2 separate regions of the Homo sapiens genome follow, and region 2 is linked to region 1. Evidence: fine-mapped expression QTL. Tissue or cell type: lung. Region 1 holds a variant in brackets; the other region holds the start of a gene. All regions are shown on one strand. Distances are from middle to middle.

Region 1 (5,000 bases):
CTCTACAAAAGACAACAAAAAAATTAGCTGGGTGTGGTGGCGAGTGCCTGTAGTCCCAGCAGCTTGGGAGGCTGAGGTAGGGGGATCACTTCAGCCTGGGAGGTTGAGGCTGCAGTAAGTCGTCACTGCGCCACTGTACTCCAGCCTAGGTGACAGAGCAAGACTTCATCTTAAAAAACTAAGCCCTATATTAGGGTCCCCCTTCTCTTCCTTCTTTCTATGAATGATCTGTATTCCTTGCATTCCTGGCTTTCTAATTTCCATGTTTGTTCTGGGGCTGAGAATAATCCAAATCATGCTCCTGAGCCTATATATTTTTAATGCTTGCTTAAAACTTAGTTCTCTGACTTTACAGGTTGAGAATATTGAACCTATATACAAATCTTCACACATTTGCAAAAGGTTCCTAGCCAATGTAACCTAGGGAAATAAACTAGATAAACTCCTGAAGTCATTTCAAACCCACTCAAATTTATCCCACAGACATTCCAATTTCTAGAAAGCTTTACTCTCTCACCTAGATTCTCTTCCCTCCAAAGCTTGCTGTCCTCCTGCCTATACAATTCTGGATGGGCTTCAAATACTTACCAGTCCAGAATTCTTTGCTCCTCAAGGCTGTACCCAGCTGGCAACAGATAATTACGGTAGTTCTGGAGCTGGTTGGCATGGCAACTATCATGGACCCAGACATGAGACACACAAGGAATCCCACTGGCAAGGCACAGGAAGTACTTCCGGGTTCGACAATGCTGATCCGCAATTAGAAGACACTGGTAAGCTGTGTTACACTGCAAGAAAAGAAGCAGAGCCAATGGGTTTGGTGACTTCTGTGGAAAGCTCCTAAGCAGCAGCCATAATGAGCCATGAAGAGCAGATCTGAAGACTCCCAACTACTACCCAAAATGTGATTTAGTCTATCCTGCCCAAGGCCACTCTTCTCACTGGAAGGCCCAAGTAATTTCCATAGATGTTCTCTCTGCCTCACCTGCAGCATACTGAGGACCTAAATCCTCAACGGACAACCAAAACCTATGAACTCAGCCTTTCAGGCTAAAAATCAGCAACCCTAATAGGGGTTTCTACTACTAAACATAAACATCAATCTTCTTTTGTCCCAGCAACAGAACCATAGCCATTAACTAACCCAAGGTCCTACCTTCTCTTCCCTATACACAACAAAAATTCTATTTCATGCAAAAACATTTTGGCAGTTTCTCAGTTCCTGAAATCTCTGGCTACTTTATCCAGGTTCCCCAACCCCTCCCAGGCCTCTTCTCAACACAGCAAGTTGGCTCTTATCATTGCCACTATATTAGGTTACACAAAGAAACTCCTCACCTGGGCTTCATTGAAATCTTCAAGGATATAGCCAGCTCCTGCTCGAAGCTGGGATTCTGTATACTGCTTGTTGAAAGGAGGAATTTCCAAAAATTCTATATTAAAAAAAAAAACCAAGATAATAATTACTGAGTGGTTTTCTTATTTGCTACCTTATGCCTCCTTCTTACTGCCCCCTTTTCCACTCCCCAGCTATCCACAACAGTGTGTCCCCAAAGACAGGCCAAGGGCTTCCCCATGGGTCAGAAAGAGATCTTGAGGCCTTTAAAATGCTGCCAAAAGAAGGGACAAGAGTAGGAGGGAATGGGAAGATGAGGACTGGAGGTAGGTCCTAGACCTAAAAACATCAAAGGTTCCTGCACCGGACCGTTGATAGGGATGGGAACACAATCATTTCCCACAGTGACATATTCCAACTTGAATAACCCTTACCATCAGGAAGTTCCCTTTGTGTCTATCCTAAATCTTTCCTGTTGAAAACTAAACCCCATTTCCTCTAGTTCTGCCTTCTGTGGAGATGAATAGCTGATGAACACTTTATAAGTTATATATGAAGGGTTTATTATAAACCACTGCATCAGCCTTTTTACCCCCTTGTACAACTAAAACTTTAATAAACCAGAATGCTCAATGAAATATGGTTTTAAAATTTTAACTGATTAAGTGAAGGTTAGAAAATCCTGTTTCAACCTTTTTATTGAAAACTATCTACCTTTGATGATCTTGAAGTACCTCAGGACACTGAACACCAATGACTGCTCTATAGTCTTGAGAGTGAAGTAGAAGATATGAGAGATGAGGCTGAAGCTGTAATGACCCTAGGCAATTAGAAATTGCTTCTTTTGACCAAATATCTAATTTGAGCTTGTTTTCTTGTCATCTGCTCCTCTCATATATAAATAACACATTAAAAAAAAAAAGAAAAGAAAAGCAAGACATTAGAGATTTTAGTTAATTAGGAGTTTTGGGAAATTAAGTTCTAATTAACTGAAATTTTTATCACAAATTTTAAAACCCAACCCAATCCAGTGCATAAGGTTCAATGCCGGTACCACTCCCCTTCCCCTTCACACCCAGTAGTAAAACTTAGAGCAGATCCCTTATGACGGCTCCCCCTTCAGTGCCCTCGTTGTCTGCTGGAGGAGCTCAGGCACCGCCGAGGCCCCAGGTCAGGGGTCTCCATCTCCACTTAGTTCTGACTAGCCAACCTATTCACTTTTACTGCTCTTTTCTTGATTCAGCATTCTCCACATTCTTCTCAAATTGAAATCCCAAAACAGAAACTCTAAATGGTTATAAGAAACTCAGAATACAGCAGGGCTATTTCTCAGCTTTGTCATAGCACCCTTTTGCTATCTCAATATAGCATGTCACAATCTTCAGCACCAAGATTCTACTGCTGAGTCACTGCCAACACCCCTTACAGTCCTGT[AT/A]TTTTCTCAAGACTTCTACTTTATGTCTGCTTAATCCAGGACTGGTCTACTTAGATTTTAATCCCTAATTATATTTCCTTAATTTGTCTAATGAAGTATTACCCTGTCTAGGCAGTGTGTTTCTCTAATTTTTCTCAAATAGTCTGGGTTCCAATTTCTTCATTTTTGAGGTATAAGTGCCCTGCCCAGCCAGATGCTAAAATGAATAGGTTGTTAATCGTGCCATCTAAATCAAGTATGAAGGTACTAAATAAACCCAACTCCAGGGTCAATCCCTGTGTCTGAAGGATCTCTGATGGTGTGCCACCCAACAAGATTAGGTACCAAACTTATTAATAAATATATCTCATAAGATGAATTTAAATATTTTACTGAGCTCCTGTTGTAAGCTGGTGTCTAAGAATTCCTATTTATCTGTAACATCTACCAAACAGTTTCTTAAAAACTATAATTCTGTAGAGGATTGTTTTAGTATTAGATGTCTTCCGCCTTCTTGAGATTGAGAAACCCCCAAGCATTCTCATACACTGAAAATATCAAGGATTCTGGTACTGTTGGGCTGCGCCCAAGGATGAAGGCACCAACATAAAGACACATTCACCATAACCACACTGTCTATCAGAAACCTGAAGATCCCTTCAAAAACACTGTCCAAATGCCTCATTTTATTTTTATGAGTACAGTTTTATTACATCTCACGCAGGCACACGGATTTTAATGAAACTGGACAGCCTGCATCTCATACCAGTCAGCTTTCTTGACTATGCTGAACCAAGCAACAAACAAAACATCTATACAGCTGCCTTGTGAAGTCCTGGTTTCAAGTCCAGCAATATTGTAAAAGGGGGAAAAAAAAACCCATGACCATGACCACTGTTTTAATGCCATGACACACCTCTATGCAGAATCCTCAAAAGACTCCCAATTTTCCTGTCCAGGAAACTCTTCAAATACCTTATTCCCACTGTGCCTATCTGATTGTTTGACAAGCTAGGTGTTGCAAACACTGGACCTTGAAATCCCACCACACCACATCTACTCACTCCCACAGCCCAACTCTCCCAAACCAAAGCCTGCCCCTGATCATCCCTTCCATGTCCTTGTACATATCTACACATGGCTGCAGTCGGTGAGATATAGTTTTGGTTAATTAGGAAAGAGTCATCCACACACCTGAAATGCCAACCCTCACAGATGTCCAGTGGTGCAAATTATGACAACCATGTTGCCTAATTCAATTCCCTCTTGCAAGACAACATTAGTCAGAACTCTAACTTGTACAACATCATTCCATCTGGACCTTTAGCCTTTACAGACACATTCAGATACTGCTGTCAGTCACATTTACAGTGTATACATTTATATCTGCTCATTCCCTCTCCTAGATCACTCATTTTTCAGACCTCTACCCACTGCAGCCTTCCTTCAAAAACTAACAGACAACACAGAAATAAATGCAATGTACAGATTTAATTTAAGGTTAAAGAGAGGTATAAGAGTTGAAAAGGCCTAGAAGCTGTTTCTTTGCAATCACCCTGAGGAACCAGGCACCCCACAGTCCCAGTCTTAGACCTCAGGAGAATGAACCTTACCCTCCACATGGGTTTGCTCTAGCAGATGCCCATAGAACGCAAATGGGGAAGATGGCAGGGCATTCAGACCTGATTGACTTGGATGGTTGCAGTAGGCTAAAATGACAGAGCTCTAGTCACAGGTTTGTCATTATTGTGGACAAAAAAAACACAATTATTTAACCTTTAACCTCTCCAAACTTGTTTCCTCATCCATAAAATAGATAAGATCTATCTCCCATCTGCCTCACAGGATTGTTTTCAGGAACCACTCACTGAGAGGAATTTTGTGAAAACAGTCTAGAAACTGTTAAAAAGCAGGATACAGAGTAATTTCTGTGACCAAGATCCCAGTTGCTACTTGCCTTGCCTCCTCTACATACAACAGGGGGACCACCAGCTCATAAGTGACTGGAAAAGAAAGAAGTGCCTATGTGTCAGAGCTCCCAGGGCTTCCTAAGGCCTTACCCTCCTCTTCTTCACTGCTTCCTGTAGGACCATCTGGCAGTTTGGAGCGGCTGGCCAACTTGTCACTGGTTGTGGCCATGGTAAGGAGAAATGCGTAGCCCAGAAACAAGGTCTTGTTGAGAGGCAAAGGCCCTCTCTGCTCTTCCAGGGCAGAGGGTTCACCGGTGTTGTCTCCACTCTCACAGGGGCT
Region 2 (5,320 bases), 240 kb after region 1:
GTCCTTAATATAAATGTCACATTTCAAATGACATTCAAAAATGTAAAATGATCAATTTAGAAAAAAAAATTACTCCTACCCACTTCCTCTTTTTCTTTTTCTTTTTTTTTTTTTTGAGACAGAGTTGTACTCTGTCGCCCAGGCTGAAATGCAGTGGCACAATCTCGGCTCACTGAAACCTACGCCTCCTGGGTTTAAGCGATTCTCCTGCCTCAGCCTCCCAAGTAGCTGGGACTACAAGCGCGTGCTACCAAGCCCGGCTAATTTTTTGTATTTTTTAGTAGAGACAGGGTTTCACCATGTTGCCCAGGCTGGTCTCCAACTCCTGAGCTCCGGCAATCCACACGCCCCGGCCTCCCAAAGTGCTAGGATTACACGTGTGAGCCGGCGTGCCCGGCCTCACTTCCTCTTTCATACAAGGTCAGTTCTCACCTATTTCAACCATCAATATGATCGTATTCAAAAAGACCAGGAAGATGATGAAGTTTTTGAAGAGAGGACCTGTTGTCTCTTAAGGAAATGTACAGAGTGGAGTTCTTTCTGATTTATGCAGCTGAAATAATAAGAGCAATAACATAAGCAGTGAAAATGAGACAGTGGAGTATGGGGAGCAAAAAATAAGTCATTAGGCAGATGATCAACAGCCAGGATAAAAATGAGTGACATGAAAGGATACACTCAAGGACCCATCCGGCCCACAAAGAAAGAGGTGGCCTCTGACTGCAGCGCACATGAAGCCTGCTCAACAGCCTCTGGGCATGTGAAATCTGTTCTATACGCTGAGGCTTTATAGAGAAACGCACTAGCTGGTGTTGATCTCCCAATACAAGTTTCTTCTGGCGGGAAGGATCTACAACAAAAATTAAAAAGGGATAGTGGATAAATACAAACAAAATAGACCAGGTAGGGTTGGGGGCAGGGATACTGGTCAGGTAATGGGTTCCCCTAATGCCTTACTGCTAGTCCTTCTCTTCTCACAGCAACTAAGAATTCTGTTTGGAGTGAGAGCAAATGTATTGCTTATGACCAACACTGTCCATGCCCACAAAAGCAGCAGGCTCACTCTCAAAGTTTTAAGAGTCTTTGACAGAAACTCTTCCCAATCATCCATGGCTAGTGGCTATCCTAGGCCTAAAAGTGAAAGACGTGGATTCTATCTCTTCAGTTTTATTTACAAGCCCTTGATTTATCAAGTTTGGTAAACCAGCAACTAAACCTCCCCAGAATTTTCCACTCTTAAATGTAGAGGATGTGGATAGGAGTCTTAAATTTAAATTAGTGAAGAAATAGGCTGCTGACCAAGTAACTCCCTGATAGTGTGCCGCGGCACAGCTTGGCTCAAGCCTTGCAAATGCTCAATGAGAGAGAAAGTATCGATGAGACGTGAACGAATGGCATCAGCTCGGGGAAGCTGCATCTGCTCTTCTTGTTGGTAAGCGGCCATGTCTGCTAAGAAAATGTAAGCATCAAGTGTCATTTCATTCTTGGAGCTGCACCAAGGATTACAGGTTTTCTGTCCCCTCCTCCCCACCCTCTTTACCCTTAAGATTCCTTAATGTACCCACATCTACGAACTAGGAGCAGTTGGGAAGAACAAACATTCTACTAGGACTCAGGGTGTTTTGAAACAAAAGGGGCTAAGTGGTAAAGACATTGCACAGTCGACCAAGCGGCCAGGCATCTTCACTTTGTGATGGCATTTCTAATTAAAACTCATTAAAAACAAAACAAAACAAACAAAAACACCGCAAGAAAAAGGAGCAGCCACAAGGGCAGGGGCCCGGGGCTGGACAAAGAATCTGGGTCCCACCTGTGCCTGAGACAATCGGGCAATGAGGTGGAGTTGGGGGAGGTCTTGGCCTGCTCACGCAAGAGAAACCAAGTGCAGAGAAATTGGACAAAATGCCAAAGCCTGACATTTTGAAAATGGGTCCCGTCCCAAGTGTGTCCACTCCAACACTCCTTCGGGGGCTAGCTCCTTCTCTCCTCCATTCTCGCTTCTGGGCCTCACCTCAGCCCAGGTTCTCTTTGCCCACTCAGTCCTTATTTCACGCTTCCGCCTCCAGCTCAGGTGCCCCGAGCCTGGCTACCCCTATGCAAGACGAGCTCAGGGCCGGCTCCCAGCCTCACTGCGCCCCATTCCCCGCCCCGCTCGACCCCCAGGTTTCGGCTCACCCCGGGACCCGGCCCTAGCCCCTACCCACAGCCCAGGACCATGCGGAGCAACGCTCGCCCAGCCACTCGCCGCCTAGGCCCCGCCCCGCCCCGCTCTCCGGCCACTCAGCGGTAACCAGCTGGTCCCGCCCGCCGGACGAAGGCGACGCGCAGCCAATCAGCGGCTGCCACACAGCGGCCCGAGCCGGGTTTGGGGGTTGGGACCTCCGGCTGCAGGTCCCCTGGGCCAGACGCGCCAGCGCAGGCAGCCGGTTTGTGGTCGCGCGCCCGACCTCCGCAGTCCCAGCCGAGCCGCGACCCTTCCGGCCGTCCCCACCCCACCTCGCCGCCATGCGCCTCCGCCGCCTAGCGCTGTTCCCGGGTGTGGCGCTGCTTCTTGCCGCGGCCCGCCTCGCCGCTGCCTCCGAACTCACGGACGACAACTTCGAGAGTCGCATCTCCTACACGGGATCTGCGGGCCTCATGCTCGTCGGGTTTTTCGCCCCCTGATGACGCCACTCTGCCAAGGCGGGGGAAGAAGGGCCGGGCTGGGCCGGGGCCGGGGGCGAGGGCGCGGGGAACTGTTGGGCCTACGCAGCGCCGGCGCCCTTCATTCCTGTGGGCCCCTGCTGTGGCGGGCACATTTCTCATTCCCGGGAGCTGGAGGTGCCTCGCCGAGAGCGGTGGAGTCGGTGCTGATCGGCCCAAGGAAAACCCGAAGGCTGCGCTCACGCAGGGCCTCATCCTTATCTCGGTGCTCTTGTGGCACTTCCTATTTGCAGAGGGTTTTGCCACCCCTTCCCCCAGTTCAATATGTAGCTATATTGTTTCTGCATGAGTCAGTATTAATGTTACTCCAGTCTACAGACTAGACATCCCAAAGCCTTGTAGTGGAAGCGGACGTTTCACCAAATGCAGAAGTCCTGGATCCCTAGGGTATTTCCTTTCATCTTACCTCACGCCGCACAGCCATTGGTTTCTAGCCAAGGTCACTGAGTGGCTGCAGAATGGTCCTAAGTGCTTTCTTGAGGCAGGCAATTTGTCCGTCACATGGTGTACAGTTTCTCCCTTCAGCTGATCACTTACATCTCAGTACCGGCAGATACCTCTGTCCAAACGAAAAGAGTACCTGAACAAGAATAATTCCATCATAATCTGTCCATATTGTCCATTTTAATTAGGATTTCTTTAAAATGTCAATACTCCGAATAGGAACAGCTCCAGTCGACAGCTCCCAGCATGAGTGACGCAGAAGACGGGTGATTTCTGCATTTCCATCTGAGGTACCCGGTTCATCTCAATAGGGAGTGCCAGACAGTGGGCGCAGGTCAGTGGGTGCGCGCACTGTGCACGAGCCGAAGCAGGGCGAGGCATTGCCTCACTCGGGAAGCGCAAGGGGTCAGGGAGTTCCCTTTCCTAGTCAAAGAAAGTGGTGACAGACAGCACCTGGAAAATCGGGTCACTCCCACCCGAAAACTTCGCTTTTCCGACGGGCTTAAAAAACAGCGCACCAGGAGATTATATCCCGCACCTGGCTCGGAGGGTCCTACACCCACGGAGTCTCGCTGATTGCTAGCACAGCAGTCTGAGATCAAACTGCAAGGCGGCAGCGAGGCTGGGGGAGGGGTGCCTGCCATTGCCCAGGCTTGCTTAGGTAAACAAAGCAGCCGGGAAGCTCGAACTGGGTGGAGCCCACCACAGCTCAAGGAGGCCTGCCTGCCTCTGTAGGCTCCACCTCTGGGGGCAGGGCACAGACAAACAAAAAGACAGCAGTAACCTCTGCAGACTTAAATGTCCCTGTCTGACAGCTTTGAAGAGAGCAGTGGTTCTCCTAGCACGCAGCTGGAGATCTGAGAACGGCCAGACTGCCTCCTCAAGTGGGTCCCTGACCCCTGACCCCCAAGCAGCCTAACTGGGAGGCAACCCCCAGCAGGGGCAGACTGACACCTCACACGGCCAGGTACTCCAACAGACCTGCAGCTGAGGGTCCTGTCTGTTAGAAGGAAAACTAACAAACAGAAAGGACGTCCACACCAAAAACCCATCTGTACATCACCATCATCGAAAACCAAAAGTAGATAGAACCACAAAGATGGGGAAAAAACAGAGCAGAAAAACTGCAAACTCTAAAAAGCAGAGCACCTCTCCTCCTCCAAAGGAACACAGTTCCTCACCAGCAACGGAACAAAGCTGGACGGAGAATGACTTTGACGAGCTGAGAGAAGAAGGCTTCAGACGATCAAATTACTCTGAGCTACGGGAGGACATTCAAACCAAAGGCAAAGAAGTTGAAAACTTTGAAAAAAATTTAGAAGAATGTATAACTACAATAACCAATACAGAGAAGTGCTTAAAGGAGCTGATGGAGCTGAAAGCCAAGGCTCAAGAACTACGTGAAGAATGCAGAAGCCTCAGGAGCCGATGCAATCAACTGGAAGAAAGGGTATCAGCGATGGAAGATGAAATGAATGAAATGAAGCGAGAAGGGAAGTTTAGAGAAAAAAGAATAAAAAGAAATGAGCAAAGCCTCCAAGAAATATGGGACTATGTGAAAAGACCAAATCTACGTCTGACTGGTGTACCTGAAAGTGATGGGGAGAATGGAACCAAGTTGGAAAACACTCTACAGGATATTATCCAGGAGAACTTCCCCAATCTAGCAAGGCAGGCCAACATTCAGATTCAGGAAATACAGAGAATGCCACAAAGATACTCCTCGAGAAGAGCAACACCAAGACACATAATTGTCAGATTCACCAAAGTTGAAATGAAGGAAAAAATGTTAAGGGCAGCCAGAGAGAAAGGTGGGTTACCCTGAAAGGGAAGCCCATCAGGCTAACAGCAGATCTCTCGGCATAAACTCTACAAGCCAGAAGAGAGTGGGGGCCAATATTCAACATTCTTAAAGAAAAGAATTTTCAACCCAGAATTTCATATCCAGCCAAATTAAGCTTCATAAGTGAAGGAGAAATAAAATACTTTACAGACAAGCAAATGCTGAGAGATTTTGTCACCACCAGGCCTGCCCTAAAAGAGCTCCTGAAGGAAGCACTAAACATGGACAGGAACAAACGGTACCAGCCGCTGCAAAATCATGCCAAAATGTAAAGACCATCGAGACTAGGAAGAAACTGCATCAACTAATGAGCAAAATAACCAGCTAACA

Evidence for each region. PIP is the estimated chance that this variant, and not a neighbour inherited with it, causes the effect.
Region 2: CATSPER2 starts here. The variant in region 1 is fine-mapped to the expression of CATSPER2 in lung (GTEx, PIP above 0.99). The same link has a PIP of 0.9 or more in breast, sigmoid colon, tibial nerve, unexposed skin and whole blood.

Annotation. Positions count from the first base shown.
Region 1 is chr15:43,408,309-43,413,308 of GRCh38, forward strand. TUBGCP4 (tubulin gamma complex component 4) reads left to right here. Exons shown (of 18, transcript NM_014444.5): 18 at 1-1,463. It overlaps TP53BP1 (tumor protein p53 binding protein 1), which reads right to left. Exons shown (of 28, transcript NM_001141980.3): 24 at 4,811-5,000; 25 at 1,339-1,433; 26 at 589-788. Among named protein-coding and RNA genes, the nearest start is that of TUBGCP4, 40 kb to the left of the region's middle. The variant AT/A (reference allele first, on the strand shown) is at 2,771.
Region 2 is chr15:43,646,618-43,651,937 of GRCh38, forward strand. It overlaps CATSPER2 (cation channel sperm associated 2), which reads right to left and starts at 2,227. Exons shown (of 13, transcript NM_172095.4): 1 at 2,012-2,227; 2 at 1,300-1,446; 3 at 677-850; 4 at 433-501. The coding sequence starts at 1,444. It also overlaps the pseudogene PPIP5K1P1-CATSPER2 and the pseudogene PDIA3P2.